6 linked regions of the Homo sapiens genome follow. The protein of the gene in region 6 purifies or fractionates together with the protein of the main gene of each other region. This does not show direct contact. Each region holds a gene or a part of one and is shown on either strand. Other genes may lie near its edges. The genes, in order: LIMS1, DHCR7, FXN, SUCLA2, OCIAD1 and ACP6.

Region 1 (5,040 bases), on a different chromosome or scaffold from region 6:
CAGATCACAAACAGCCTTAAATTCCAGGCGCTGGAGTTTGGACCTACTTGACAGGCAATAAGCAGCTTCTCAATATTTTGAAAACATGTGACCAAAGTAGTTCTTTAGAAAAATCTGAAACCAACATGGATGACAGATCAGTCAGGTGCACCTGCACTGTACCTGCACAGAAAAACAAATCCTGTTGAATCTACTGCACTGAGAAGGAGAAACAGCTAGCTGTGGCAAAAGCTGCAACTGCCTACCCAATGTCCATTCTCCCTCCCTTCCTCACTGTATTAACAAGGCAAATTTTAAAATGGACAGCAATGTGCCCAGCTTTAAAAGTAAGCAAACAAAAACAAAACAACAGCTACATTTACCAATGAGAAATAAACATATCTGTTTAAGTAGTTGGTAACATTTGTCACTCAGCTGATGCATTGGTAAGGAAGCCCGTCAATAGGAAGGGATCTCTCTGGGGAGGAAAAAGTTGCAAGCACCAGCACATGTGGCTAGGAATACCAGGTCTTCAACAACACTTCTGAAGTGTTCTTCAAAAGGAATCACTTGAAAGAGACTGACATCCAGGACACCTGTAATAGAACAATTCTGGGCCAATATCCATAATTCATTCAGACATTTCCAAATGTACTATGTTAATGGGCTCAGCTATAGGTCTTGGTCCTCAAGGTATTTACTCTATACTGTAGACAAAAAGATAAAATATATACACACAACAAACTGTAACAATGCAATGTGAATAAAGTAACAGAGCAAACCAACGTAATATAGCAGAGGAGACCCCACAATACAACCACATCTTGGGCTGTATTCCTAACCCTGCTGTTAACTGACTTTCGGCCTTGAATAAACTATTTTACCTTCTAGGCAAATCCTGTCCTGTAAAATAAAGAAGCAGTGTATTTAAATAAAGGGCTAATGCAGGGGACCCACTAAAGTGCATGAGTTCAGTAGGTTCCAACTTTTTCACATATAAACCCACTTTTTAAATGTTAAATAAATTTTCTTAGATCTTCATGTCACCATGATTGTCTTTTTAGCACGTTAACAGATAAAGCATGCACTATATAAATACTACCACGAATTCCACAAACCCTTTAAAAGAATCTGTACTTTATCAGCCAGGCGCGGTGGCTCAAGTCTGTAATCCCAGCACTTTGGGAGGCCGAGGCGGGCAGATCACAAGGTCAGGAGGTAGAGACCATCCTGGCTAACACGGTGAAACTCCGTCTTTACTAAAAATACAAAAAATTAGCCAGGTGTTGTGGCAGGCGCCTGTAGTCCTAGCTACTTGGGAAGCTGAGGCAGGAGAATGACTTGAACCCGGGAGGCGGAGCCTGCAGTGAGCCGAGATCATGCCACTGCACTCCAGCCTGGGCAACAGAGCAAGACTCCGTCTCAAAAAAAAAAAAAAAAAAAAAAAGGAATCTGTACTTTATCACCTGTTAAATGAAAATTAGAAACATTCACAAAACATCATTTGTTCCACTTCAAACACTTAGTATGTGCATAGATTTTTTTTTTCAAGCCAGTTGGAATAAGTTTACAGTCCACAGGACACTGGCTCTGCATTCTCTCAAGTCTTTCCCAGTCTTAATACTATCATCTTATGTTCATTTGAAAGATTTTCAGAACCAGGGTGAAAAGGAAATCAGTAAGAAAGGAGTGAAAAAAGAAAACGATGGATTCAAGAGAAAATTCGAAGGTAAGAACTCAGCAAGAAGGTGGCTATAGGGAGGGAAGGACAGGAAGAAACAAAAGCAACCATGTTAGGTGCCATTAGCAGCAGTATAAGTCCGGAGGAAAAGAACCAGGATGATGGGAAATGATGACTTCATTGAGCATCTACTATGTTCCTGGCATGGTGTTAAATGGTTTAAAAATGAAAACATACACGATTTTAAAAATCAAAACAGTACAAAAAGCTATACAACAAAAAATGTCCCTCTCATCCTGGATTCTCAGGTGCCTAGACTCCCTCTCCAGAAGCAACAATCACTAAAAATTTCATCGGTATCCTTTCAGAAATATTTGCATTTGCCTTCATATTTAGTTATCACAACAACCTCTGAGACAGGTGGGATTATTTTATAAATTAAGAATCTGAGGCTTAAAGACGCTGACAGGGCCAAAGTCAAAGAGCCATGAAGGGACAGAACTAGGACTAGAACATGGACCCAAACACTCATGCACATACTAACTCTACACTCAGAAAGCTATGAAAACTCTGGTAGCTGGGTGCAGTGGCTCGCGCCTGTAATCCCAGAACTTTGAGAGGCCGAGAAGGGCGGATCGCTTGAGGCCAGGAATTCAACACTAGGCTGGGCAAGATGGGGAAACCCTGTCACTACAAAAAATACAAAATATTAGCCGGGCATAGTGGCATGTACCTGTTGTCCCAGCTACTCAGAAGTCTAAGGTGAAAGGATCACCTGACCCCAGGAGGTTGAGGCTGCAGTGAGCCATGATTGCACCACTTTACTCCAGCCTGGGTGACAGAGTGAGACCTTGTCTCAAAAACAAAACAAAACAAAAAACACTCTGGCAGAGATGTTCAAAGTGTTTGTGATAATTAAAAAATAGAACCCAAATAACCACTAGTCAAGGACTGGATGTACAAATCATATCACATGTACACTGTGAAATACTATGCAGCCATTAAAACTAAGGTTAAAAAACATAAGGTAAACCCAGATACACCGCTCTAAGACAGCTTGTTGAAGTAAAAAAGCAATTGCAAGAAATGGGGAGTTGGTATTTACTGGTCACAGAGTTTCAGTTTGGGAAGATGAAAAAGTTCTTGGAAGGAAGGGTAGTGATGGTTGCACAGCAACGTCAATGTACATAATGCCACAGAACTGTACACTCAAAAATGGTTAAAATAGTAAATTTTGTTTTGCATGTTTTCCCGTAACTTTTTTAATACTAAAAAAAGCAATTGCAGAATAGTATGACTATGATTCCATTTTTGTAGAAAGGGAAAGTATGTGTAAACATTACTTGTAAATGCATGTTGTCTGTTATCTTGCTTTACCTTGCCTGCTACTCAGACATCCTGAAAGCCCTGGATTCCTGGTGTGCTGATGCTGAGTCCCGTGCCTCCCACTGCCAAGCACATACTCCCAGCAGCTGAACTACTGCCTTCACCTTTCTTCCTACCTCTCACAGAATGCACTCTTCAGCACTTGCTTTATCTGCAGCTGTCCCGCCCCACTGTTAAATGTCACTGAAGACTCATCAAGCTCCAAAACGTGCTCCAACGTGAAAAAAGATGCAGGAAAATGACTCCCTTACTCATTCCTGCAGTAAGCTCCAGGGTGGAAATGTGTGATATGATCAAATAAAAGAGATGAGATTATATCAGAAAGAGTGAAAAGGAAACCTCTGTTGCTGAAGAATGCACAGTATATGGCAACAGGTAGTGCAGCTCCTGCTTCTCAAGTGTCTTAAAATTAAAGTTTTTGGAAGACAATGTGGCAACAGTCCAGCATATAATGTAGATGACATCCCTGTGGGTGGAAAACCACAGCTTAAAGTGTAGTTACGAGAACTATAAAACTAACAAAATGGTTTGAGATGTTTTTCCTTCTATTTAAGTGCAAACCTAGGTAAGAACATGACCTATACTGAGGTTTATTTATTTAAATGATTATCCAAAGAGCAAACACAACATTATTGAAAATAGAGGCTTTCAGAGTAAAGCTCGGCTCTCCTGTTACTGATCTGCTGCAGCTATGGAAGTTTCTCTGACCCAGTGGAGGGGCTCCAAGGTCCCCCTCTCTAGGAGGAAAGGAAAGCCTACTTGTTGTACTCACATTTAGCAAAGGAAAGAACTGCCCAGGAGACAGGTCAAGGGGCTACAGCAAAGGGAAAAGGGTGGGAATGATCAAATAAAATCAAGACAGCACAATCCTGATGGACAGTTTTCTCTAAGCCTGCAAAAACCGGAACCACCAGAACTGAAATGATCTTTTGTACCACCAAACTTTCCTTAGCTTTCTTAAAAATCAACAGTTCGATTTTCTCACCATACAAACAGGCACAGAGCACTGAAAAGTGTGAATACACTTAGGCCCATGGCATTGTCCCTCTTCATAATGGCACTGGCCATTTTCTTATCAGGGAAAATCCTGAAAGGCAGAAAGTTGCTTCTTCCATGGTGGTCCAAGTCTTAGTTATTACATCCTACTAAAACTAGCCAAAACTACAAGGCACACACTACCACAAGCATTCAAGAGCAATTTTAAGAGAAACCTTGTATTTGTTCCTTTTTAAATATCCCCAATACCTGCATATCCTTCATCATTTAGGATTATGTCTTTAACAGTGGTTCTTAAAGTATGGCCTTGAACTCCTGAGGGTCTCCAAGACCTTTCTAAGGGATCCGAGAGATCAAAACTATTTTCATCATACTAAGATATTCCTAAGAAGTCACTGTAGCATTGTGGACTGTGTTGACACACAGATAGTGCAAAAACAACAGTCGGTACAACTGCTGGCCGCTTAGCACTAAAGAGGGCCGTGGTACTGTCCCTGAATTCTTTACCTTTATGTACTCACAGGAAAATAATGTCAATTTCACTTTTTAAGTGAAATGGTACAGTCATGCTGGAAAAAAACTGTCAGTTTCTCAAAAAACTAAACATACGATTTCTGTACAACCTGCCAATTGCACACTCTTGGACATTTATCCCAGAAAAGGAAAAGTTACATTCACATAAAACTTAGACAGGCTGAGCACAGTGGCTCTAAAATTCCAGCACTTTGGGAGGCTGAGGTGGGTGGACTGCTGGAACCCAGGAGTTTGGGACCCCCAGACTAGCCTGGACAACATGGCGAAACCCTGTTTCTACCAAAAAAATACAAAAATTATCCAGGCATGGTGGCGTGTGTCTGTAGTCCCAGCTACTTGGGGGACTGAGGTGGAAGGATTGCTTCAGCCTGGGAGGTCTAGGGTGCAGTAAGTCATGATCATGCTACTGCATTCCACTCCAGTCTGGGTGACTAAGCAAGACACTGTCTCAAAAACAACAACAA
Region 2 (5,040 bases), on a different chromosome or scaffold from region 6:
CTCGCCAGGCTCTGTATTCAGTATTTGGGGCCGGAGAGAGACACGGTCTCTTCCTATCAAGAACTCTTCGTCTTGTTTTGTGCATCATAGGAACTGCATAAACTAACTTGTGTAAATTGAATGAAGTGCGGGTACTGAAGTTCTCACACTGCATAAGGAAAATGTCTTTCATCGTTGAAATTTTTTAAATGTGTGTGAATTTTTATTAAAGTAATTCATGCACACATTTTTTTAAAAATCAGTGTTAAAAGGCTTCAGAAGAAATACTCTCTACCACATCCCACATCCGACAGTCTTGCTTGCCAGCAGCAAACACTTTTCATTCTTTCAGCTACTTTTGTGTTGTTGTTTGTACCTACTTGTTTCTAAGTAATTTCCTTTTAGTACCCCTAACTTTGCAAATTCCCTTCTGTGCATACAATAGTCAATAAATAGTCAGAGTATACATTGTTATGACAAAATTACCATTATTCACTGTTGAGCCAAGTAAGGTCCTATAATAATGGCTTGGTTTCTTTTTTTCCTTCCTTATATGACTTTTTATTTTTCCTGGAGTTAACAGTTGCCTTCCTTTTTTTTTTTTTTTTTTTTTCATTTGGTAAGGTTTCTATGCATCTCTCATTCATTTTTTTCTGGATGCTCTAACCGAGCTGTCACATATATCAATAATTTTCCTACACATTCAGATGCAACAAAATTCATCATTTTCATTTCCTCTCTTTCCTAGCCATTCATCTTGTACCAATGTGGACTGGTTTCTGGTTAGTCCTGCTGCATAGCTGTCCTCTTGGGACTTGCCCCTGCCCTTTTGTGGACATGGCTTCAGCAGCTCTCTTGGGTCTCCAGTTTCCTGGATCCTATGTTGTTGTCCTTGAGTAATAGTTCACATAGGAGTAGAATTCTAGGTTGCAAAAAGTTTTCCTCAAAATTTTGAAGTTTTTCATCATTGTCTTCTAGAATCCAGCTTGCTGTTGAGAAATCTAAGCCTACTGTGATTTTTACTCCTGTTTTTTCTCTAAAAGCTTTCAAGAGCATCTTTTAAAAAATCTCAGATATTTTAAAGCTTCACAGTTATGAACTTGTTCTGGAAGTGGGGATGTCACTGCTTCCCCCAAATTATAACCATGTAGAGCAGCTGTGGGTACCTAGAGACATTCTGTGTTCTCTTCCCCTTTTTTTTGAAGGGTGATTATTGATGGTCCTACATGGGCCACTGTTCTAGGCCCTGGTAGTAGAACAATGAAGAGGACACACAATTCCTGCCCTTGGGAAGCTTACATTCTAGTGAGGGGAGACAGACAATACACACACACAAATGAATACTTCTAGGCGATGGGGAGAGTTACTAAGAAAATAAAGTACCCAGTGGAGGGCCTTGGCAGGGAAGCTGGGGAGCAGCTGCTTCAGATTGGCTGAGAGGGAAGATCTCCCCAGGAGGGGACATTTTACATGAGCCCTGAACAAGGACACCTGCAAACGTGCTCTAAGCAGAGGAAGTCAGTGCCACAGACAATTTAAACTGTGTTCAAGGATGAGTGAAGACCCCTGTGTTCCTGGAGCCAAAGGAGAATAGGGGAGAGTGGTGTGTAGGAGGGAGGCAGGAGCCAGCTTGTGCTGTAAGAGGGGGGGCATTCTGCCATGTTTGGAGAATGAACTGAGACTAGCAAGAGCAGCCATAGCAAGGTCACGTGGGAGGTGATTGCAGGGTCCAAGGAAGAGAGTCTAAGACAAGATGATCTCTTCCCTGCCTGGAATCTGCTGTCAGGAACAAGGTACCGGGAAGATGTGCACAGGAGGCCAGCCCTGCCAGGCCCAGGAGCAGTGGTGGATGCAACAGGGAAAGGTGGTGTCTGTTATTTGAGGGATAATGTAAGCAAGGTTCTCTTTCTTGCAGGGCCCAATGGCTGCAAAATCGCAACCCAACATTCCCAAAGCCAAGAGTCTAGATGGCGTCACCAATGACAGAACCGCATCTCAAGGGCAGTGGGGCCGTGCCTGGTAAGGATCTTGCCTGTTCTCCCAGCTAGAAAGTAAAGTGTGGTCTCAGAGCTTTCCAGCCTTTGGAATTGTATGGACCCAAAGGAATGAAGGACCTTTTTAAAAAAGATTTTTTTTTTTTTGTCAAGACTAATGAAAGGTAAACAGTTTTCCACTTTATAAAGTAAGGAATTATAAAAAGAAACTAGAAATCATGGTCAGTCAACAACTTAGAAAAAAAGATAAAGGCTTAAAGGGCAGCTGGGGCCTTCCCACCATCTGGGGGTATGACCTATTGTCACAGCTCCCATTTCGCCATAGAACCATGGGGACTTCGTGCAGGGTGAGTATCCTCTCCGACCTGGAACTGGGGAAACCACTGGCCTTGGTGGTTGTGAAAGACCTACCTCCGCTCATATTCTGAGCTCTGGGCCTTCCATGGGGGCCACAGATAGTGCCACCAGTTAATCAACTACAGTAGAGCAGGCATGTTGAGTGGCTTCCCTGGCCGCAAGGAGGGCCCGTGCTAGGAGCTAATGCCTTCTGTCATGGGGTACTGGTGGGTTTGAGCAACAGTTCTCCCACACAGAGCCTCTTAGGGTCCTGGTGGGGCCCAGGGCAGATGGGCCCCAGTGTGACTGCCTGCATCCGTCCTCGCAGGGAGGTGGACTGGTTTTCACTGGCGAGCGTCATCTTCCTACTGCTGTTCGCCCCCTTCATCGTCTACTACTTCATCATGGCTTGTGACCAGTACAGCTGCGCCCTGACTGGCCCTGTGGTGGACATCGTCACCGGACATGCTCGGCTCTCGGACATCTGGGCCAAGACTCCACCTATAACGAGGAAAGCCGCCCAGCTCTATACCTTGTGGGTCACCTTCCAGGTCAGCAGCCCCTGCCCTGGGGTTGGGACACAGCAGGTGGGGAGCGTGCCCTCCTGCTGGGGTAGTCCTTCCATTTGTCTGGGACATGGATCCTGGCTCAGGTTGACATCTGGGTTCCCGGGACCCAGCAGGGCATTCCCTGGACTCTGACATGTTCAGATTCATCCTCAGCTGTAAGGCAGGAGGCACCTGTCACATCAGCGTTTGATACACCTTCACGGCATGCCTGCATGCAGTTGCTGGGCACGCCCAGCTCTGCAGGGACAAGCTGAGGATAGGAGCAAAACCCCGTGGGAGGGCAGTGCTGTCCTGAGGAAGCCCCATTGTCAGCAGGAGTCACGCCTTGCACCAGGTCTGGAAAGGAGCATCTCAGTCCCCAAAGGGACTCTCTCAGTCATGAGATGCCACTCAGAGAAGCGAGGGCCATGTTTCCCCACAGGCAGTCGAGGCAGGTCCAGGACGTCCTCAGCTCCATGGTGTCCCCACTGGCCTCCCAGTCCAGAGGGAGTTCCAGGAAGGGGTTGTTGTAAACCTGGTGCACACATGGGTGGTGCTGATTGCCTGAACCCAGGAAAAGGTTTCCAGGGAAACGGTGCTAGAAAGAGACAGGCCTGGGTTTTCCTTCCTGGGCGGGAGGAAGGCTCAGATCATGATTAGCTGTTTCTCCCCAGGGTCCAAGCTTCTGGGCTCCAGAATACTTCTCAGTTCAGATCTCTTGGTCCCTTTGAGTGAAAAATGACAGGGGCAGTGTGAATCACAAATAGCCACAAAGCAGGAACCCCCACCTGTCCATCAGTAGATGAATGGACCCACAGAACAGAACACTGTGCCCACTGTGGGACACTATTTGGCAGCGGAAGGGAATGAAGCTCTGATGCCAGTAGGCGGATGACCCTTGAAGACACTGCTGAGCGAGAGAAGCCAGTCACAGAGGCTGCATACTGTGTGGTTCCCTTTATATGCAATACCCAGTACAGGCAAATCCACAGAGGCAGAAAGCTCAGTGGCAGCCAGGGGCGGCAGGGACAGGGAATTCAGAGTGACCGGAGATTGGAACAACATTTTCTTCTGTGGTGATGAAAAGTTCTGGAATTAGCAGTGATAGGTGTACAACCAACCATGTAAATGCGCTAAATGCCGCTGAATTGTGCACTTTAAAAGGGTGAATTTTAGCCGGGTGTGGTGGTGCACACCTGTAATCCCAGCTACTTGGGAGGCTGAGGTGGAAGGATCACTTGAGCTCAGGAGGACAACGCTGCGGTGAGCTATGATTGCACCACTACACTCCAGCCTGGGTGGTAGAACAAGACCTCATCTCAAAGATAGATTTATATATATATATAAAAAGTTGAATTTTATGGGATTCTCCATTTTAAAAAGGTGACTGGGAGGGACCTGTGCGCTCTCCTGAGGGGCGAATGGAGCCCTGGGGGAGAACGCCTTGGCACCTTCCCTGGTTGATGAGTTTATTGTCTCAGAACCCCCTTCAAAACCCACAGCCCAGCAGTTTGAGCTTCCAGGAGCCATAAGTGCTTCAGGAAGAAAAAGACTATGATTGTGATTCTCATGTTCCTGCTATGCGTCCCCCTTTGCAGGTGCCCTCCAGGCGGGGGGTGATCAGGCTGCTTGTGTGTTTCAGGTGCTTCTGTACACGTCTCTCCCTGACTTCTGCCATAAGTTTCTACCCGGCTACGTAGGAGGCATCCAGGAGGGGGCCGTGACTCCTGCAGGTAGCCTCCTCCCTTCCACCCTCCCCAGGCTCCCGTTCTCATCCCTTTCTCTCAGGGGCCAGTCCTCCCCAGCGCTGCTTTGTCCCTAAGACTTGTCACAGGATAGAAATCCATTTTGCTTGGATTTTTCACAGCACCAGGCCTCAAAACCATTGAGGGCAGCTGGGGCCATCCCACACCCAGGTTAGAAATCACTTTCCTGGGTAAGGAGGGAATGGATGGCCCAGCTCCTTCCCAGCCCCATAGCAGGGGATGCACTCGGCCCATGAAGCTTCCTGCAGAGACCACCATGCAGAGACCACCATTCCTCGGGGCTGTCCGTGGGAGACCTTGTCTGTTCATTCCTTGCCATCATTGAGAACCCACGAGGAGCCTGGCTTTGTGCCTCTCACGTGGGTGCAGACTGGAACCGCATCCCAACTCTGCCCCCAGAAGCTCCCTGTTTTGAGG
Region 3 (4,452 bases), on a different chromosome or scaffold from region 6:
TCTTCAGCTAATAAACATTTCAATAAATCTGTTCTGGTGCCTTCCATTCCTTAAACTATACAGCCAGAGAAGATGGAACATATGAGCTTGGATTCTGTCTCTGTAGCGGATGCAGGGATATAAGTGAGCTGAGTTTTACACATTCCAAAGGGGCCACTGATCAGGTACTTCGGGATGCACTCCAAGTGTCCTGGCTAATTAAGATAAACCAAAGATTAGAAGGCATTTCTGGCTGGGTGCAGTGGCTCACGCCTGTAATCCCAGCACTTTGGGAGGCGGAGGCAGGTGGATTACTAGGTCAGGAGTTCAAGACCAGCCTGGCCATGATGGTGAAACCCCGTCTCTACTAAAAATACAAAAATTAGCCGGGTGTGGTGGCAGGCACCTGTAATCCCAGCTACTCGGGAGGCTGAGGCAGAGAATTGCTTGAACCCAGGAGGCGGAGGTTGTAGTGAGCCCAGATCGTGCCACTGCACTCCAGCCTGGGTGACAGAGCAAGACTCTGTCTCAAAAAAGAAAAGGCATTTCTTACTCTATACACAAAGTCATGAACTCGTCGTTTTGAACAGCATAAATTTACATGAAATTTCAAAACTTTGCCCCTCCTTCCCCTTTCTCCCTTGCTGGCATGTAGCTGTTTTAGTTTGTTCTAGCAGAAGATAACTATGTGCCAAGAATCCAACTGGACACGGACTAAAATTACTTTCATCTTAGTGTGTACCTTGGAAGCGTAAAGCGATTTTTCCTTGGCAACCTTGCATGGTTAGTCCACACAAACTCCATCACTATGAACATGGGTCTTCCTTTAGAGGTGGCAAAAGCATCTGTCAGAATTTGGGGCAGGTATAGCTGGATAAAGCATATTGTAAACCTATAATTTAATGCAAACTGTCAAATTTTAAATTGGCTAAAATAGTTTTAGAAGGTATGCAAAAGATCAAGTAAAATATAAGCATGGTAAGGCACACGATAAATGGTTCCAGGGAATCAGAATCTAATACGAAGTTAAGTAAACTGAGTATTTTGATTAAGTTCAAGGTTGAGTAGGGAACGTCATCCATATTTTGGGAGAAGTCCTCCAATGTGAATATGAAATTATGCTATGCATGTGAGAACAACAGTTGTCATGAACTGAGTACTTCTCACATCAGGATTGTGCTTTGCCTGTGGGCCCAGGCTCAACATGTTAGATATCTCCATTTTATAGATTAAAAAAAAAAAAAACATGAGGCCACTGTCAGTGTCTACAAACAAGTAAGAGGCAGAGTTTCGATTAAATTCTAAATTTGTGATTCAAAAACCCAGGTTCTCTTTTACACACCTCATTCCTTCTTTGTAATTCCAGAGAGCTAAATAAGTCATGCCAGAACATTTTATTTTCTATGTGGCTGAGGTTCTACCCACTCAAGAAGGTAAAAATAATAGAAAAAGCTTTCTGATGAACACCTGTGGCACACACCTGTAATCCCAGCATCTTGGGAGGACGAGGCAGGTGGATCACTTGAGCCTAAGTGTTAGAGACCAGCCTGGGCAACATGGTGAAACCCCATCTCTACAAAAAATACACAAATTAGCCAGCTATGGAGGTGCACACCTGTGGGAGGATTGCCCAAGCCCAGGGAGGTCGAGGCTGCCATGAGCTTTGATTGTACCACTGTCCTCCAGCCTGAGTGCCAAAGTGAGATCCTGTCTCAAAAAATAGAAAGGGGAAAAAAAAGTTTTCTAAGATTGTATTATGCAATTCCTCACCTCCTCCAGTATGTTACAGTGAATATTTAATAACCTTTTCCTGGAAACTCATCCTTCACATGGATGACTGGACCACACCATAAATGAGGCGATGCTCCCAGGGTCTGTGGTGGGGAGGCTATTGGTACACACAGTGGTACTTTTCCAGTTTGCTTGACAGAATATGATTTTGATTCTTCCCCTGGCTGCTGTTCATGTGTTTGAAGTCCCTTTATTTATTTATTTATTTATTTGAGACGGAGTATGGCTCTGTTGGCCAGGCTGGAGTGAAGTGGCATGATCTCGTCTCACTGCAACCTCCACCCCCCAGGTTACAGCGATTCTCCTGCCTCAGCCTCCTGAGTAGCTGAAATTATAGGCACGAACCACCACGCCCAGCCAATTTTTTAATATTTTTAGTAGAGACGGGATTTTGCCATGTTGGCCAGGCTGGTCTTGAACTCCTGACCTCAGGTGATACACTTGCCTCAGCCTCCCAAAGTGCTGGGATTACAGGCATGAGCCACTGTGCCAGGCCCCTTTTCTTTCCTTAAATGGGGATCTCCCACTGCCTTGGGAACGAGATAATCAAACCAATTAGAGCTATATGTAAAATGAAAGTAAAATAGGCCTGAAGGGCTGGCCCACAAGGACCCCATAAGAGCCCAGATTCCTTAACTTCCACTTTCATGTCAGAGCAGCCCCACTGCATACCTCTTTTGTGCTGTGTCCCAGATAAAGGAGTACATCATGTCACCGAGTTCTAAGTAAGTGGGGTGCACTGAAACTTTCAGTAGAAGCAAGATGCAAACACATACAAACATGTATGATGTTATTTATTTTCTCACTGGCACTGGCCTACTGCACTTAAACATTTCCATCAGACTCAAAAAATAATTTTATTTCAGAAAAAATATTTTACCTATTTAGCTTTTGTTTATACTGTTTTATTATTAATAGGTTTTTTTTTCTTTTTTTAAGAGATAGGATCTTGCTGTGTTGCCCAGGCTGATCTCCAATTCCTGGCTTCAAGCAATCCTCCTGTCTCAGCCTCCTGTGCAGCTGGGACTATAGGTATATGCCACTGCTCCCAGCTTGACTTAATGGAATGTGTTTTTATTCACCCATTGGAAAAGCCTTTGCTACATATTAATACAAACTTCTCATTAATAAACCCTCCTTTTTTTTTTTTTTGAGACGGAGTCTCGCTCTGTCGCTCAGGTACGATCTCGACTCACTGTAACCTCCTCCGCCTGGGGTCAAGCAATTCTCCCGTCTCAGCCTCCTGAGTACCTGGGATTACAGGTGCACGCCACCATGCCCAGCCACTAATAAATCCTTCTTTAAGTAAGAAAATAATATAACATGAGCATAACTTTGCATGAATTTTAATGTCCTGGAGGCTTGTTGCTTTGTATAAAGTGCAGGTCAGTAAAAATTAAAATGAGGTAATGTGGTATAATACGATTAACCCAGTAAGGGTACAATAAAGGATGGCTATTATTATTATTATATTGTTATTATTATTTTGAGACAGAGTTTTGCTCAGTCACCCAGGTTACAGTGCAATGGCACGATCTCGGCTCACTGCAACCTCCACCTCTGGGTTCAAGCGATTCTTCCGCTTCAGCCTCCCAAGTAGCTGGGATTACAGGCACCTGCCATCATGCCCGGCTAATTTTTTGTATTTTTAGTAGAGACGGGGTTTCATCATGTTGGCCAGGCTGGTCTTGAACTCCTGACCTCAGGTGATCCACCCACCTTGGCCTCCAAAAGTGCTGGGATTACAGGTGTGAGCCACCGCGCCAGGCCAAGGATGGCTATTATTTTCACATGAATTCAACTGAAATCACGATAGGGCAACACCAATAACAATGTTTCCTATATAGCTTAAAAACTGTTCTTTGTCATCCCCTCATCTACCCAATAGGGAATTAGAACTAGCCTGTTAGGTTGCTTGACAGGACCACTGAATGCTGGGAATCAACCATACTCTATTCTCTCATTTAACAGATGGGGAAGCAGAGGTCCAGGGAATTTGGGAAACTTGTCCACAAAGGGACAACTACTTTGTGGCTGAACTATGTCTAGGACCAGGGCTCTCTTTATCAACATGAGTATCTCCTTCCTTTATCTGCCCCTTCATGTTTACAAGGCACCTCCTCAGCTCCATGATTTTGTTTGTTACGCTACATCACTCAGCTCATGAAAACGGCTTTTTTTCCTCTTTTCTTGTCTTTGGAAGATTTTTTGCATTCTTGTAGCAGCTGATTCCATACTAACCTTTAAATTGAAAAAATATATATACACACAGACACGTATGTGAATATGTGGGAGAAACAGCACTAGGTCTCCCTGGACAACCCAGTGCAGGCCACACCTTGGCAGTCACAGAGCACAAATAAGAAATGATCTTCCCGTGTGAGTTGCTTTCGACACTTCAATGCTAAAGAGCTCAGAAGTGCTTACACTTTGAAAGAAGCCTGAAAACATTTGTAGGCTACCCTTTAATGTGTCTCATTTGGAGATAGAACAGTGAGCAGGTTGACCAGCTGCTCTTCATGTACTTCTTGCAGTAAATCCTTCAAAGAATGAAGAGTGAAGACAATTCATTTTCCCTCCTGGAATTTTTCCTTCTTATTATTTTGCTTTTTTAAAGGTTGTTATATTCAGGTATAGGCATAAGACATTATAAAAGATAAGGGGTATCATGTGAGGGAGGAA
Region 4 (5,040 bases), on a different chromosome or scaffold from region 6:
ATGTAGCAGGACCCCATCTCTATAAAAAATAAATTAGCTGGGCATGTTGGCATGCACATGTAGTCCCAGCTACAAAAGGAGGCTGAGGCAGGACGATCACTTGAACCCAGGAGATTGAAACTGCAGTGAGTCATGATTGTGCCACTGCACTCCAGCCTGGTTGACAGACTGAGATCCTGTCTCAAAAAAACAAAAAACAAAAGAAGCCCTCATACAGCTAGTAAGTAGTGGATCCAGATTCAAAGCAGACAGTCTACTTTCAAAGTCTGTGCTCATCATCACTACGTTATGCTGCCTCTCATAGTATATACATCTGATCACACTTTAAGAACATCACAATAGGTAGAAGTTCTTAAATCCATCAGTATGGTTAAATAGTCTACTGCTTGGTCAACATTTCCTTCCATGGCATTAGTTAACTACCAAGTTTTATGCAGTGAGCAAAAGGTCAATATGTATATATACACACACACATATATTTACATATATGGACAAAAAGAACCATGTGACTACAATCTGTCTAAAAATATCCACCTGTTACCATATAAAACATCATACAGACTTTGGGAGTCCGAGGCGGGCAGATCACGAGATCAGGAGATCAAGACCATCCTGGCTAACTCGGTGAAACCCTGCCTCTACTAAAAATACAAAAAATGAGCTGGGTGTGGTGGCAGGCGCCTGTAGTCCCAGCTACTCGGGAGGCTGAGGCAGGAGAATGGTGTGAACCCCAGAGGCGGAGCTTGCAGTGAGCTGAGATCGTGCAACAGCACTCCAGCCTGGGCAACAGAGCGAGACTCCATCTCAAAACAAAAACAAAAACAAAAACATCATACAAATTTAGACATGTCCAAGACCAAAAAATAAACTCAGCTTCTCTCTTCCTCAGTAAAATAGTTAAGAAAAGGCTTTGAAGTTAGGCATCTTGGATTCAATTCTCCCCTCTGTTTCCTTTAGAGGATATACTAGATGGCATACACATAAATAGCAGACTTCCAGTGAACTATCTATCTATAAGTAGCTGTATAATATGTATGGTTGGCTGGGTGCAGTAGTTCATACATGTAATCTCAACATTTTGGGAGGCAAAGCCAGGAGGATTGCTTGAGCTCAGGAGTAAGAGACCAGCCTAAGCAACATAGTGATACCCTGTCCCTACCAAAAAAAAAACAAAAATCAAAAACAAAAAAAAACACATATGTTTTTTTGTGGTGTGTGCCTGTAGTCCCTGCTACTTAGGAGGCTCAGGTGGGAGGACTGCTTGAGCCCAGGAGGCAGAGGTTGCAGTGAGCATGATCATACCACTGCACTCCAGCTTGGGTGACAGAGTGAGACCCTGACTCAAAAAAAAAAACAAATCACTGTCATGGCAAGTATATGATCTAAGAATTGGTGCTTAGACCTCTATACTGCAATAACGAACAAATCAACTTCTACTGTGTTTACCTCAAAACAAGCAAACAAAAGCCATGAACCCAAATCATATTGGGAGATTTTTATTAACTTAAATTGACATTCTTAATTTTGTCTGTAAGTCCTTGGTATATATGCCTTTATTTGAAGCAAACCTACAGGTGTTTCTTAATATGACAGAATCATGAAGACTTGCAGTTAATCAGTGTTTCCTAATGATTAAAACAATGTTCAAATAATTACAAAGTTACTTCATCAAAATACTTAGAAGAATATTCTGAGGAGTGTTTGAAAGCTCTGTTTATAAATAGTGATTGATACATTTATCATGTATTTGGTGCTGAAGATAAACACTTTTTACATAAAACATTGTTTTAATATACTGCTCTACTAATGAGGCTAGTTATTAGATATACTGTATTTTAACACTAAAGAATAAAGCTTTATCTTCGTATTTATCTTATTTATAGGACTCTTATCAATGAAGAACTTTGTATCCAACAATAATAAACTGGCAAATTGCAAGTTACGTTTTGTAGGAGAAGCAAAAAAGACTGGCTGCGACAAAAGAAAGAAGATAACTGCATTATACATGCTTCGTACAAACAGTCCATTCTGAATGGTACAATTAAATGCAGTCCAAATCCTTTTAAATGTTTGTGTGCCTAGATGGCAATTACAATCTCCACACACTAAAAAGAAAAAGAACAATAACACAGAACACAGTATTCTTAATGATTATAGCACATTTAACACCTTCAGCCATCCACTGGGTTTTCAGATCATATTGGCAACTGAAATTTCACATCCACATGTGCTTGCTTCGCTAAGGTCACTATTTCAGAGAGCTTTACAACCTAAAAGAAAAGAACGAAGAATTTTCACAAAAAGGTAAATTCAGAACTACAGGTCAGTGCAAAATTAATGTACACTCAATTTTTTCCATTTAAAACATCTGGACTATTCTGACATTGCTATAAATCACATTACGTTCTTATAAGCAAATGACATTCTCAAAGGATAATCAAGTCTGACACTCCTCATAGTCCAAACTTCAATTAAATACTTTCTGATTAAGATGTTATACCACCTGCTAGGATTACACATATGTATTACATAAGATTATATATGTGTGTATAAAATGTGTGTGTATGTATGTGTGTGTGTGTGTGTGTGTGTATATATATATATATTATTCTAAATTTTATCTTAAAGACAGAAACAGTGAGTGTCTTTGTTGGATACTCCACAACTCAAAGCACATCTAAGTAAAAATTTGTTTTGAAATAAGTATACAATCTTAACTTAAAATGTTGGGATAGAAATTTGGGTCTACTAGTTAGTATTTTACTTTTTGTCAGTAAGTTAACAATTGCTAACCTGAGTTCCAATTCTCTCTACAATCTGTCTAAAAATATCCACCAGTTACCATACAAAACATCATACAAATTTAGACATGTCTAAGACCAAAAAAACAAACTCAGCTTCTCTCTTCCTCAGTAAATTAGTTAAGAAAAGGCTTTGAAGTTAGATATCTTTGGCTGCAAATCCCCCCTCTGATGCTTATGACATACAACCTTGAATAAGTTAACTTATCTAGCCTGTTTCTTCATCTATAAAAATGGAAATTTTATCACCAAATTCATATTAAATGAGATAATCCTTGAAGAAAACAGCTTAGCATTGCATGCACAGTAAACACTCAATAAACAGTAGTAACTGCTAATATCATCATCATCTCATTCAATATTATTATTGTTATGACTTCTATAATCTCCCAGTCAATAAAAACACTGTAGTCATAATTTAAATCAACTGTTCACTTTTACCTCTCATGATCTATTTGATCAAGGTCCTACTGGTTCTTCTCCTTCTTTTCATGTCCTCCAAGCTTTTCTTAATTTAAGTTTTCATTCCAAAAAAGTGCACTTTCAGAGACAAGTTATAACCTATTTATTACCTTCACCTTTTCTCATATCTAAGTATTGCACTAGATGGACTCCTACTATCTCTCCCCTTTTCCCTTCAATATATCCCACATCTCAAAGTCAAAATAGGCTTTCTGAAATACTTTCTCCTACTATTCCCTTGCTCAAATTCTTTATTTTTAATTCAGGTTTAAGTTTAAATTCTTCTGTCTCCAAGCTAGAGTTAAATTTTGTTTACTAGTAAGTACTTTCCCAAAGAAGGACATAAGACTTTTATTATTTTTGTGAAATGACATCACATTAACTCGGTAAATTCAAGAGTCTGGCCAAGCCTGGGGGCTCATGCTTGTAATCCCAGCACTTTGGAAGGCCGAGGTGGGAGGATCATATGAGGTCTGGAGTTCGAGACCAGCCTGGTCAACATGGCAAAACCCTATCTCTACTAAAAATACAAGGCTGGGCGCAGTGGCTCACACCTGAATCCCAGCACTTTGGGAGGCCGAGGCAGGTGGATCACAAAGTCAGGGGTTCAAGACCAGCCTGACCAACATGGTGAAACCGCATCTCTACTAAAAATACATAATTAGCCAGGCATGGTGGTACATGCCTGTAATCCCAGCTGCTTGGGAGGCTGAGGCAGGAGGATTGCTTGAACCTGGGAGATGGAGGTTGCAGTGAGCCGAGATCACACCACTGCACTCCAGCCTGGGCAACAAGACCAAAACTCTGTCTTAAAAAAAAAAAAAAAAAAAAAAAATTAGCTGGGCGTGGTGGCACACACCTGTAGTCTCAGCTACTCAGAAGGCTGAGACACAAGAATTGCTTAAACCCAGGAGGCAAAGGTTACAGTGAGCTGAGATCACGCCACTGTACTCCAGCCTAGGTGACAGAGCAAGACTCAGTCTCAAAAAAAAAAAAAAAAAAAAAATCAAGAATCTACTATTGATTAAGCTATAGAGCCCAAAGAGTGTTCGAGTGTTCAATGAAATGTCTATAAACATAATGGAAGGGAAGACAAAAAATTCTCATCTCTCTGTATCTACTATGAAGTGTTCTCTGATACACATTATTGTTAAGTAAAAGAAACAAAGTATAGATTACCATTAATCTAAAGTGGGAAAAGGGAGACACACACACACACACACACACACACACACACACACACACACAAAGTCCCCCCCTTATCCAATTTCACTTTCTACAGTTTCAGTTACCTGCAGTCAACTGTGGTCCAAAAATTTTAAATGAGAAATTCCAGAAATAAAAAAGTCATTAAGTTTTAAACTGTGTGTTGTTCTGAGAAGTGTGATGAAATCTTGCACCATCCTGCTCCAAGTGGAATGTGAACCATCTCTTTGCCCAGCGTATCCACGCTGTATAAACTACTCTTCCATTAGTCATCAACATTATCTACTCTTGACATCCAACAATCAACATCATGGCTCAATGATCCAGGATGAACCAAAGCAGATGATTCTCCTTCTGTTACATCATTAGGTCAGTAGTAGCCTAACACTATGTCACAATGCCTTCATCATTCACCTCAGTTCATCTCACCAAGTAAGCATTTTATCATCTCATTATCACCACAAAGGTGAGTATAGAACAATAAGATATTTTGAGAGACCACATTCACATTTATCACGGTATATTGTTATAATTGTTCTACTTTATTATTAGTTGTTGTTAATCTGTTACT
Region 5 (5,040 bases), on a different chromosome or scaffold from region 6:
ACATATTTTAAACACTTATGTTCTTTCTTCTAAACTAGTGAACTCCTTAAACTATATGAAAATATTACATCTATATATATATATGCCTAAAACCGAGAGTGAAAAATCCAAAACTCATAATCTCAAAGGGGGCTATAACTTAAAAACAGCTATGAATCACTGTTCTTTACACCAGCACTGTCTAACAGAATTTTTTATGATAATGGAAGTTGGTCTTTGAGTGACCAACCCTGTGATCAATTTGGTCTTGGTACTTGACTGGTAAACAGTTCCCCCCATTGATATGCGTAATTGGCTCACTGTGCCCAAACTGTTTGTACAAATACAGTTCATGCCAAACATCTGCTTTCATTCTAGGAGTCTGGAATTTTGGTACCTGTTAGGCAGAGGGTGAATAAGTGACCAGCCCCCAATAAAAACTGTGGGCACTGAGTCTCTAATGAGTTCCCCGGGTAGATACAACTTCACACATTGTTATGACTAGCTGTTGGAGAAATTTACACTCCCTGGGAAGAGAACTCTTGGGACCTGGTTTCCGCCGGACTTCACCCCATGCTCCCTTTCCTTTTATGATTTTGCTTTATATCCTTTCACTGCAAGTTATTTTAAAGTTAAATTGCTACATGTGACTACTGGCTGCCACACTGGACAGTGCTGTTCCAGACCTGAGGTTGGCAAACACGTTCTATGAAGAGCCAGATGGTAAATATTTTGGGTTTTGTGGGCCAATCTCTGTCCCAGTTACTCAATTGCCGTTTTAAAGCAAAAGCACCGAAAGACAATCCAAAAACACATGAACGTAGCTGTGTTCCAACAAAACTTTATTTTTAGATGCAAACATATGAATTTCATGTAATTTCACACGTAATGAAATATTCTTTTCCTTTGATTTCTTAACCATTTTATCTTATTTTATGTTTTTAGACAAAGTCTCACTCTATCACCAAGGCTGGAATGCAGTGGTACAATCTCATCTCACTGCAGCCTCAACCTGCCGGCTCAGATGATCCTCCTGCTTCAGCCTCCCAAGTGGTTGGGACTACAGGCATGCACCGCCATGCCTGGCTAATTTTTTGTCTTTTTTCTTTTTTTTTTTTTTTTTTGTAGAGATGAGGTTTCGCCAAGTTGCCCAGGCTGGTCTCGATCTCCTTGGTTCAAGTAATCAGCCCACCTCAGCCTCCCAAAGTGCTGGGATTACAGGCGTGAGCCACTGCACCCAGCCTCTTAACCATTTAAAAATGTAAAAACAATTCTTAGCTCATGCATACAAAAACAGATTTGGTCCATGGGCTAGTTTGTTCAACTCTGGTCTAAACCATATATGGACAATTTAAGAACCAAAGTAATTAAGACATTTGAATTATTACAGATTTCATGATTAAAATCCATCACTTTGGAATAGGGCATTAACTTTGCCATCACACACAAATTGCACAAACGCTAAGGTCTGAATTCATGCTATCCTACTTACTAACAGATTTTACCTTTGCTGGAAATATGGTTTCTTTAATGTTGGCTAGTTAGAATGCCTTCATGCATTATCATTTATCATTTAAGGTTTTGCAAAGGACAAATCCCTTTTAATTACAGCACCAGTACAATTTGCAATCATTTTTCTCCAGCTTGACTCAAGGATTGCAACATGAAGCACTGAAGAATCATATAAGAATAAAAGGCAATGAGTTAGCTGGCCATTTCTACAATGGATAATGCTTTCCCCATTTAATGCAGAGTAATAGTCTGTTCGAGGAGATTCTAGTACTAGTTCTGCCATTCACCACAATGTCTTTGCATAGCTTCTTCTCATGCTATAAAGGAATAATGGATTAGACCTAAGGTCTCATTCCAACTCAGGTATTCTACTTTATGTCACAGAAAAAGACAATGGTAAGACTGAAAGAGGCTTCAGAGATTATCTAGTCCTCATTCCAATCTGAGTACACTAATATCCAGAAAAGACAAGTCATTTGCTCAAAGCAACACAGCTGGTTAGTTTGTGGTAATGCTGAGATCAGAACCCAAGTCTCCTGACTCCCTAGTCAGTGGCCTTTTCCACTACAGTATGTAATATCTATTTTGTTAAATAATCTGTCTCTATAGGCAAATCAGTAATACTGCTGACCAAAACCTAGTGCACATTATTACCACAGTCCCAAACTATATTCAATATATACAAGAATCCCTACAATTATTTGAACTCTTCTCCCCTCACAGTAACAAAAAGCTACTCTATATTCCTAACTGTAGTCAATAAAAATTTTTATTTCATTAATCATAATAACACTAATAGCTATTTAATAAAGATAGCCAACACTTAATTAAATTGCATTAATCCCTATAATAATTTCATGAGCTAGGCAGTTATCCCCATTTTATAGATAAGAAAAGTATAGCACAGACCTCAGGAACTTGTCCAAAATCTCACAGCTACTGTGTGTGGAGCTGGGATTTGAATCCAGCCAATCAGGCCTCAGAGTCCATACTCTTTTTTTTTTTTTTTTGAGATGAAGTCTCGCTTTGTCACCCAGGCTGGAGTGCAATGTCACAATCCTGACTCAATGCAACCTCTGCCTCCCGAGTTCAAGCCATTCTCCTGCCTCAGCCTCCCAAGAAGCTGGGACTACAGGCATGTGCCACCACACCTGGCTAATTTTTGTATTTTTAGTAGAGACAGGGTTTCACCATGTTAGCCAGGCTGGTCTTGAACTCTTGACCTCAAGTGATCCACCCACCTCGGCCTCTCAAAATGCTGGGATTACAGGTGTGAGCCACCATGCCTGGCCCATACTCTTATCACTCTTATACTGTATCATTTGAAAACTAGTAGTACACATATATGAAATATTATTCATAGACTCCAGCTGATACAAATATGAACTGATACATCTTTTTAGTAATTCTGGAGTTTGAGAACTATTTTAACATGAATATGCAATAAACTGACCCTATATGCACAGGGTCTTCACTACCTGTGTGTTTGGGCACAGACATAGTGATTTTAGGTCAGTGCATAGGGTCACGATTTTAAGCACCTAGAAATAAGATGCCTTCATAGTTATATTTCAGATTAATGGAATGTAGGTCAGTATAGAAACATAGTTATCTTAAGGAAAGAGAATGGTCCCTAGATCAACAAGTCTAATTTTAGAAGAGGATAAGTATTTTAACAGACCTAAAAAATGTATAAAAAATTACCTTAGTAAGTGCTTTTTTATAAATTCGTAAATGCTTTTATCACCTTTTTCTAATCCAAGGTGATACTCTCCAAAGTAACAGATGCCATTATTTGTTTACATAAATGTCACATACAGCATAGACTATCTAATTCGAAAGTACAAATGTTAAAGTACAAAATTTCCTATGTATGATTATCATCCTTCTGATAATTATACGTTGAACTTCCTATCACCTGGTTACAACCAAGCTTCTACATTTCAATGTTTGATGCTATAATATGCAACAACACCTTGGTTATCTGTTTTGAGAGTGAAATGCTACCTATTAATACAGTAATTTTTTGGCTGCTGTAATTTCTCAGTAATGTAGATATGGTATAAAATTAACAAGCTGTCTTTCAGCCTGTCCTTATCACATGCTTTTTGTCTTTTTTTTTTTTTTTGAGATGGAGTCTCGCTCTGTCGCCCAGGCTGGAGTGCAGTGGCACGATCTTGGCTTGCTGCAACCTCTGCCTCCCGGGTTCAAGCGATTCTCCTGTCTCAGCCTCTCGAGTAGCTGGAATTACAGGCACCTGCCACCATGCTCAGCTAATTTTTGTATTCTTAGTAGAGACGGGGTTTCACCATATAGGTCAGGCTGGTCTCGAACTCCTGACCTCAGGTGATCTGCCTGCCTCAGCCTCCCAAAGTGCTGGGATTACAGGTGTGAGCCACCAAGCCCAGCCGCTTTTTGTCTTTTCAACCTGTGATTTATCTGTTTTAATGCACAGAAATCACTTAGCTTTGTACTGTTCATATACCACATGTCCCACTATTAAGAGTCTGGTATACACGGGCATCCTGACATTGTTCACTACCCTTTAATGTACTTTTGGCATAAACCTGTCACAGCTATTTAGATTGTTAAACACCTGCAGCAGCATACATTTATCAGCCAGAAATAAATCTGGACACCTTAGCATCTATTTAACCGTTAGCCCAACACTACAATAATCCCAAATCCCCTCTATCACACTTGCCTTTTTCTTAATCCTGTGTCATCAAGACTTAAAAATAGATCATTTTATCCTATCTACTCTATATAATCTTCAAAGATTTAAAAAAAAAAAAAAAAAAAAGAACTGTTGCTGGAGTATACAGCCAAGTTCTCTAAGAAATTCTTCCCATTCTGGCCAGGCACAGTGGCTCATGCTTGTAATCCCAGAACTTTGTGAGGCCGAGGTGGGCAGATCACAAGGTCAGGAGCTCGAGACCAGCCTGGCCAACATGGTGAAACTCCTTCTCTACCAAAAATACAAAAATTAGCTGAGCATGGTGGCAGGCGCCTATAAGCCCAGCTACTTGGGAAGCTGAGGCAGGAGAATTGCTTGAACCCAGGAGGCAGGGGTTGCAGTGAGCCAAGACTGTGCCATTGCATTCCAGCCTGGGCAACAAGAGTGAAACCCAGTCACAAAAAAAAGAACACCGAAAAAAGAAAAAAAAACAAAAAAAAAAAAACGATGGCTTACGTCTGTAATCCCAGCACTTTGGGAGGCCGAGGCAGGTGGATCACAAGGTCAGGAGATGGAGACCATCCTGGTTAACACGGTGAAACCCCATCTCTAGTAAAAATACAAAAAAAAATAGCCAGGTATGGTGGCAGGCGCCTGTAATCCCAGCTACTCGGGAGGCTGAGGCAGGAGAATGGTATGAACCCAGGAGGCGGAGCTTGCAGTGAGCCAAGATTGCACCACCGTACTCCAGCCTGGGGGATAGAGCGAGACTCCGTCTCAAAAAAAAAGAAAGAAATTATTCCCATTCTAATGAGCCATGAAAATTTTATAGAAGCCCTTACTTTATGATGACTATGCATCTATAACAATTA
Region 6 (5,040 bases):
GAAGGAGCTCCCCAGCAGCAATTTGGGATTCACTGAGGTCCATCTACAGAGTGATCAGCTGAATCAAAGTCCCAAAGGGGTATTTATTCCCAAATTATTGATAGTCAGAACCAAGGGCTTTAAAAATAGCCTATAACTTTACTAGAATATCAGAATTCACACACACATCGTTGGTCTGGACAGAAGAAGAAACCACACTGAAAGTCATGAGTTTAGTCTTCAGTCCAGAACTAACCAGCAGTCGCCCTGGGAAGTCACTACCATTCTCTGGGGTTCATCTGTAAATCAAAGGGGTAGGACTATATCAGCCACAGAACCTCCTCCAACCTACGGCTATTATGTAAAGTATAATAATAAAAGAAGAGGTGCTGATGGCTGCAAGGTGGAGATCGAAAGCATAGTCCACTTGCATGTCCCATCCCCTCCTTTTCTGTGCTTCCTCAGACCCCTCTGAAGAATCCTGGGGTTCTGCAAGATTTGTTGTGAAAAGGAAAAACCAAATGATCCGATGCCGCCTCCAGATATACATGTCCTCAAATAAACAGTTGAGCATAAAAGGAAAAAGTAGGATTCTGAACCAAGACTGCCAGAGTTTGAATCCTAATTCCACCATTTACCAGTTTTGTGTCCCTGGGCAAGTCACTGAGCCTCTCTGTGTCTTGGTTCTCTTATCTGTAAAAGGGGATAATGACACCTATCTTATAGGGTTACTACAAGAATTAAACAAGTTAATATATGCGAAGTTCTTAGAACAAAGTTTGCTGCATACAATTGGTCCTCCATGTCCTTGGATTCTACATCTATGGATTCAATCAACCATGGATTAACAATATTTGAGTAAAAAAGAACAATACAAAATAACACAATAAAAATAACATAAATTAGAAAATAGTACAGGGTAATACACAGCATTTACATTGTATTGGGTATTATGTCATCTACAGATGATTTGAAGTACATGGGAGGATGGGCATAGGTTATATGCAAAGCTATGCCATTTTATAAAAGGGACTTGAGCATCTGTAGATTTTGGTATCTGCCCGGGGAGAGGGTTGTCCTGGAATCAATCCCTTTTGGATACTGTGGAATGACTGTACTAAGTCCTTTATGTGTTAGAATAACTATGACTTAAACTTATAACACTAATAATATTATAAACCTCTAATATTTCCATCTGGAGTCTGATATTGGTGTCTGGATTTTGGACCCAGTTTATGATAAATAAGGCACACTTGAGTAGACAAATGTACATTGAGCAAATGACTTGGCCAGTGGGCAGACCAACAATCTCCAGCTTTCCCCACAGCCTGATTCTCTGTAGCCTATACGTAACCACTGGGATTTTTCTAGGATTTTACTCCTAAAGCAATATCCCAAAGTTGCACCATTTCCATCAACAGTGCCACCTTCTGGGATTCTTTTTTTGTTTGTTTGTTTTTTGAGATGGAGTCTCGCTGTCACCCAGGCTGGAGTGCAGTGGTGCGATCTCGGCTCACTGCAACCTCCGCCTCCCGAGTTCAAACGATTCTCCTGCCTCAGCCTCCTGAATAGCTGGGATTACAGGCGCCCACCACCACGCCTGGCTAATTTTTGTATTTTTAGTACAGATGGGGTTTCACCATCTTGGCCAGGCTGGTCTTGAACTCCTGATCTCATGATCCACCCGCCTCAGCCTCCCAAAGTGCTAGGATTACAAGCGTGAACTACTGTGCCTGGCCCCTTCTGGGATTCTTTGTTCAAGTCCCTTCATATAGGAAAGGCATGGAAGTAGCTACAAAAGAAGCCAATCTGGAGTCCCAACAACTGTAGGTCCAGCGCAGGGAGCTGCTACCCAGACACCTGCACCTGAGGCTAGTGATTTCCTTCCCTGATGGAAACCTGGGATATTCCCAGTCTGGGACCTGCCTAAAGAGAATGTTGCCACCAATAAACATCTTTCCTTCTCAGTACCACTTCTGATGTTTCTGAGAAGATCTTTGCCTTTTAGAAGCTGAGCAGTTGAGAGCTTTCAGAAGATCAGGTGCTGTGGATCACTCCTAAACTCAAGGCTTCCCAAGAAGTAAGGGGCAGCCCATCCTGCTTTATGTGACCTAGACACGTACTGTTTGTGTGCAGCAGCCAACTACAGCCAGAACTAGCAGCAGTATCCAACCCAGTTGAGGGCAAGACCAGATTCCTCTTTCCTGAAGGTTCCATTATTTTACATATTTCTTAAAAAATGTGATGGAAATTTTGTTTCTATTTGAGATACTGCCAAAAAGCTAAACAAAGTAACAAGAACCTTTGCTTTTTGGCACCTTTTTAATAAGGTCATGATGATCTGAAACTCAGACCAGTAATTAAATGTAAATTTGAGCCAATAACAAATGACAAAATGCAGCTTCATGTGATGGCCAAAGGCTCTCAACACATGGGATCCATGAGGGAAAATAATTAATGCAGTCCTTGGGGATGAAAAGGTTGGGAACCACTGACTGCAACCATTCAGGGGCTGAATGTATCAAAACCCAAACTCGATGGACTTTCTCAACTAGGAAAGGCTAGACGGAACAGTGTTCATGCTGTGGATTATCACCAAGATTAGGGCAGTAGCAGCAGTGTTGGGTCCCAGTGTCCTTCCTTTCCAGCAATGTCTCACCTAAATAAAAAGCCCCCTCGATTGTTCACAAAACATGGTTAGGACTGCCTTGTGCAGCTTGTGTAGAAGCTTGAGGGGAGAAGCCAGGAGCCAGAGGCAGATCAGAGCAGCTGCTACACTGCTGCTGCTGTGGAGGTCAGGCTGGCAGGGGCACCATAAGGCCAGACAGGGAAAGACCCACTGGACTAGGTACACACTGGAAGTCACACATGCAGGAGAAAAAAAGTCAAGGGAACAGGCACCAAGAAAGAGATAGGGGCTTCGGAAGTGAGAAGCAAGACCCCTCAGGGACAGGGACTGACTGGGACCCCAAATACGAACCTTCTTTCTGACACTGGAAAAGCCCAGCCAGCAAACAACGGGTGGACTCCAGATTCCGAAAAATGTTAGTGGAACGAATACTGAAAAAAATGAGAAAATAGTGACACTCATAAAAGGAATATTTAATTATATACACTCTATTTTATTCCACATACGCTCCAGGGGTCTTTCAAGAGTACATAAGGAGAGCTATGGAACTAGGAAGAATGCTTCACTTTTCTGTGGGATGTCAGCCCCTGAGAGACTCGAAGTGCAATGAATGCGACCTCCAGGAACGACCTGTTCACCAGATCCTGTGACATAAGGGTATGCAGCATGACAAGTTGTCCCCCAAACTACCTTGGGTGACAGTGGGAACCATCTTGGGGAGTCAGGACAGGTATCCTCATGTTCAAGACCTTAAATTAAGTGCAACATCCCCTTTCAAGTGACTCACAAGACCTCCTGTGGGTTGAAGGTTGGTGAAAGAAAGGGAATGTCTTCCACATAGTTCTTCCTCAGTCTCTCTCCCAAGGCAAACATTTGCTGCATGCCCACCTTGGTCAGCTGCCCAGCAAACATGCCCCCCTAAAGTAGGGAAGAAAGAGAAAGAAGAATGAAAACACCTGACAGCCTGCTGAACTCAGCCCAGAGAAAACAACCCAACCTTTGCAGTGGGGCTCCCCAGAGCAAGGAAGCATTGCTCACCTTCAGGGTGGTCTCATGGTATTGAGAGTCGTAAGGAGAATATGGTTTCGGACCACCAGCTAGATTGGTGACTGTGTAATCAAACTGAGTTTGGGGTGGGACCTCTAATAGCTGGGGGTTCCACTCTACCTGTTAGTACAAAAAAAACACACCACATTGTTTAAAAATGGTTCTTGAAATGTATAGCATTAACATCTCAAGCACTCAGAACACATGGCTGGAATCACTGACACTAGGCCTGCAACCTTCCTATGGGATGGAAGGAAAGAAATGTTAGCTAAAATTAAGGGAAGAAAAGATGGTGATTTATTATTCCAGGTGTCCTTAGCCTATGTCCTGTTATTGCTACACTAGTAATGACTGCTAAGGGGCTGCTCTGGCACTTAGCCCACACTGAAGTAAAGGGGAGAAGTGACCAGAATGCCTGGCATGCGGATACGTGGTGAATGAACGAATAGATGGATGAAAGAAATAAGATGTCAGTGACCATATGTAAGAATTTATAAGGAATTAATCTGGAGGTTTATATGCCCTATCCCAGCTTAAGGATTCTACTTAATGTCCCTTGTAACTAATATACTTTTTTCCTCCTTTCATGCAATTCGTGAAACAAGCAGCTGCCATCTCAGAAGATGTTGCTTTTTCATCATCTTCCATTATTCCTTGCAATCTGGCTCCTGCCCCAACTGTGCTGTAATGATTTCAAAACATCACTAGTGGCCACAGGTCTCATAGCTCCAACTGTTCATAAAACTCTGACACTCATTGAGTCAGATGTGAATACTTCAATTTTAAAAACAAGTCTAATCCCATAGACCAGTTCCCCTTCCCAATCTACTATGTCCCTCTCAATGTTACCACAGTTCTCCTAGGCCCCAAACCTCAAACCTTTGGCTCCCTGTGGATCCACTATCCCCACACCAAGCCCTGTTGATCACTGCCTAGAAGAAAAGTCCCTCCCAATGGTCCTTCCATTATCTTATTGTAGAATGTAAACCTTATTAGTGCCTGTGACAAACTCCTCCCTTTCACCTGCACAATCCATCTATCCATAGCCAACTAATTAATCTTTTTGGAAAAAATATTTTTATTGCATTTAAATATTTTGTTTTATTTTTAATTGACAAATAATTGTATATTGTATATATTTATGGAGTACAATGTGATGTTTTCATATATATTTACATTTGATATATGATTAACTAATGTAAACAAAATCCATCAGCTCACATACTTTCATTTTTACGTGATGAAAATATGTAAAGTTAACCTTTTAGTAACATAGGCATACATCATTTTATTGCTCTTTACAGAGATTGCATTTTTCACAAATTGAAGGTTTGGAGAACTCTGCATTGAGCAAGTCTATCAGTGCCATTTTTCCAACAGCATGT

The links.
Region 1: the proteins of ACP6 (region 6) and LIMS1 purify together in Homo sapiens (affinity purification with mass spectrometry, with the first as the bait; one large-scale study listed by BioGRID). This does not show direct contact.
Region 2: the proteins of ACP6 (region 6) and DHCR7 purify together in Homo sapiens (affinity purification with mass spectrometry, with the first as the bait; one large-scale study listed by BioGRID). This does not show direct contact.
Region 3: the proteins of ACP6 (region 6) and FXN purify together in Homo sapiens (co-immunoprecipitation; one large-scale study listed by IntAct). This does not show direct contact.
Region 4: the proteins of ACP6 (region 6) and SUCLA2 fractionate together in Homo sapiens (co-fractionation; one large-scale study listed by BioGRID). This does not show direct contact.
Region 5: the proteins of ACP6 (region 6) and OCIAD1 purify together in Homo sapiens (co-immunoprecipitation; one large-scale study listed by IntAct). This does not show direct contact.

The regions. Positions count from the first base shown.
Region 1 is NC_000002.12:108,536,580-108,541,619, reverse strand, and holds part of LIMS1 (LIM and senescent cell antigen-like-containing domain protein 1), read right to left. Parts: intron 1-5,040. UniProt on the Homo sapiens protein: Within the IPP (ILK-PINCH-PARVIN) complex, binds to F-actin, promoting F-actin bundling, a process required to generate force for actin cytoskeleton reorganization and subsequent dynamic cell adhesion events such as cell spreading and migration.
Region 2 is NC_000011.10:71,441,813-71,446,852, reverse strand, and holds part of DHCR7 (7-dehydrocholesterol reductase), read left to right. Parts: intron 1-1,894; 5' UTR 1,895-1,900; coding exon 1,901-1,998; intron 1,999-2,566; exon of another isoform or gene 2,567-2,637; coding exon 2,638-2,860; coding exon of another isoform or gene 2,861-2,896; intron 2,897-4,499; coding exon 4,500-4,590; intron 4,591-5,040. UniProt on the Homo sapiens protein: Oxidoreductase that catalyzes the last step of the cholesterol synthesis pathway, which transforms cholesta-5,7-dien-3beta-ol (7-dehydrocholesterol,7-DHC) into cholesterol by reducing the C7-C8 double bond of its sterol core.
Region 3 is NC_000009.12:69,072,990-69,077,441, reverse strand, and holds part of FXN (frataxin, mitochondrial isoform 1 preproprotein), read right to left. Parts: 3' UTR 1-4,452.
Region 4 is NC_000013.11:47,941,176-47,946,215, forward strand, and holds the end of SUCLA2 (succinate--CoA ligase [ADP-forming] subunit beta, mitochondrial precursor), read right to left. Parts: intron 2,271-5,040; coding exon 2,196-2,270; 3' UTR 1,481-2,195; downstream 1-1,480. UniProt on the Homo sapiens protein: ATP-specific succinyl-CoA synthetase functions in the citric acid cycle (TCA), coupling the hydrolysis of succinyl-CoA to the synthesis of ATP and thus represents the only step of substrate-level phosphorylation in the TCA.
Region 5 is NC_000004.12:48,836,897-48,841,936, reverse strand, and holds part of OCIAD1 (OCIA domain-containing protein 1), read right to left. Parts: intron 1-5,040. UniProt on the Homo sapiens protein: Maintains stem cell potency. Increases STAT3 phosphorylation and controls ERK phosphorylation. May act as a scaffold, increasing STAT3 recruitment onto endosomes. Involved in integrin-mediated cancer cell adhesion and colony formation in ovarian cancer.
Region 6 is NC_000001.11:147,656,001-147,661,040, forward strand, and holds part of ACP6 (lysophosphatidic acid phosphatase type 6), read right to left. Parts: intron 3,776-5,040; coding exon 3,647-3,775; intron 3,527-3,646; coding exon 3,396-3,526; intron 3,040-3,395; coding exon 2,960-3,039; intron 673-2,959; exon of another isoform or gene 618-672; intron 1-617. UniProt on the Homo sapiens protein: Hydrolyzes lysophosphatidic acid (LPA) containing a medium length fatty acid chain to the corresponding monoacylglycerol.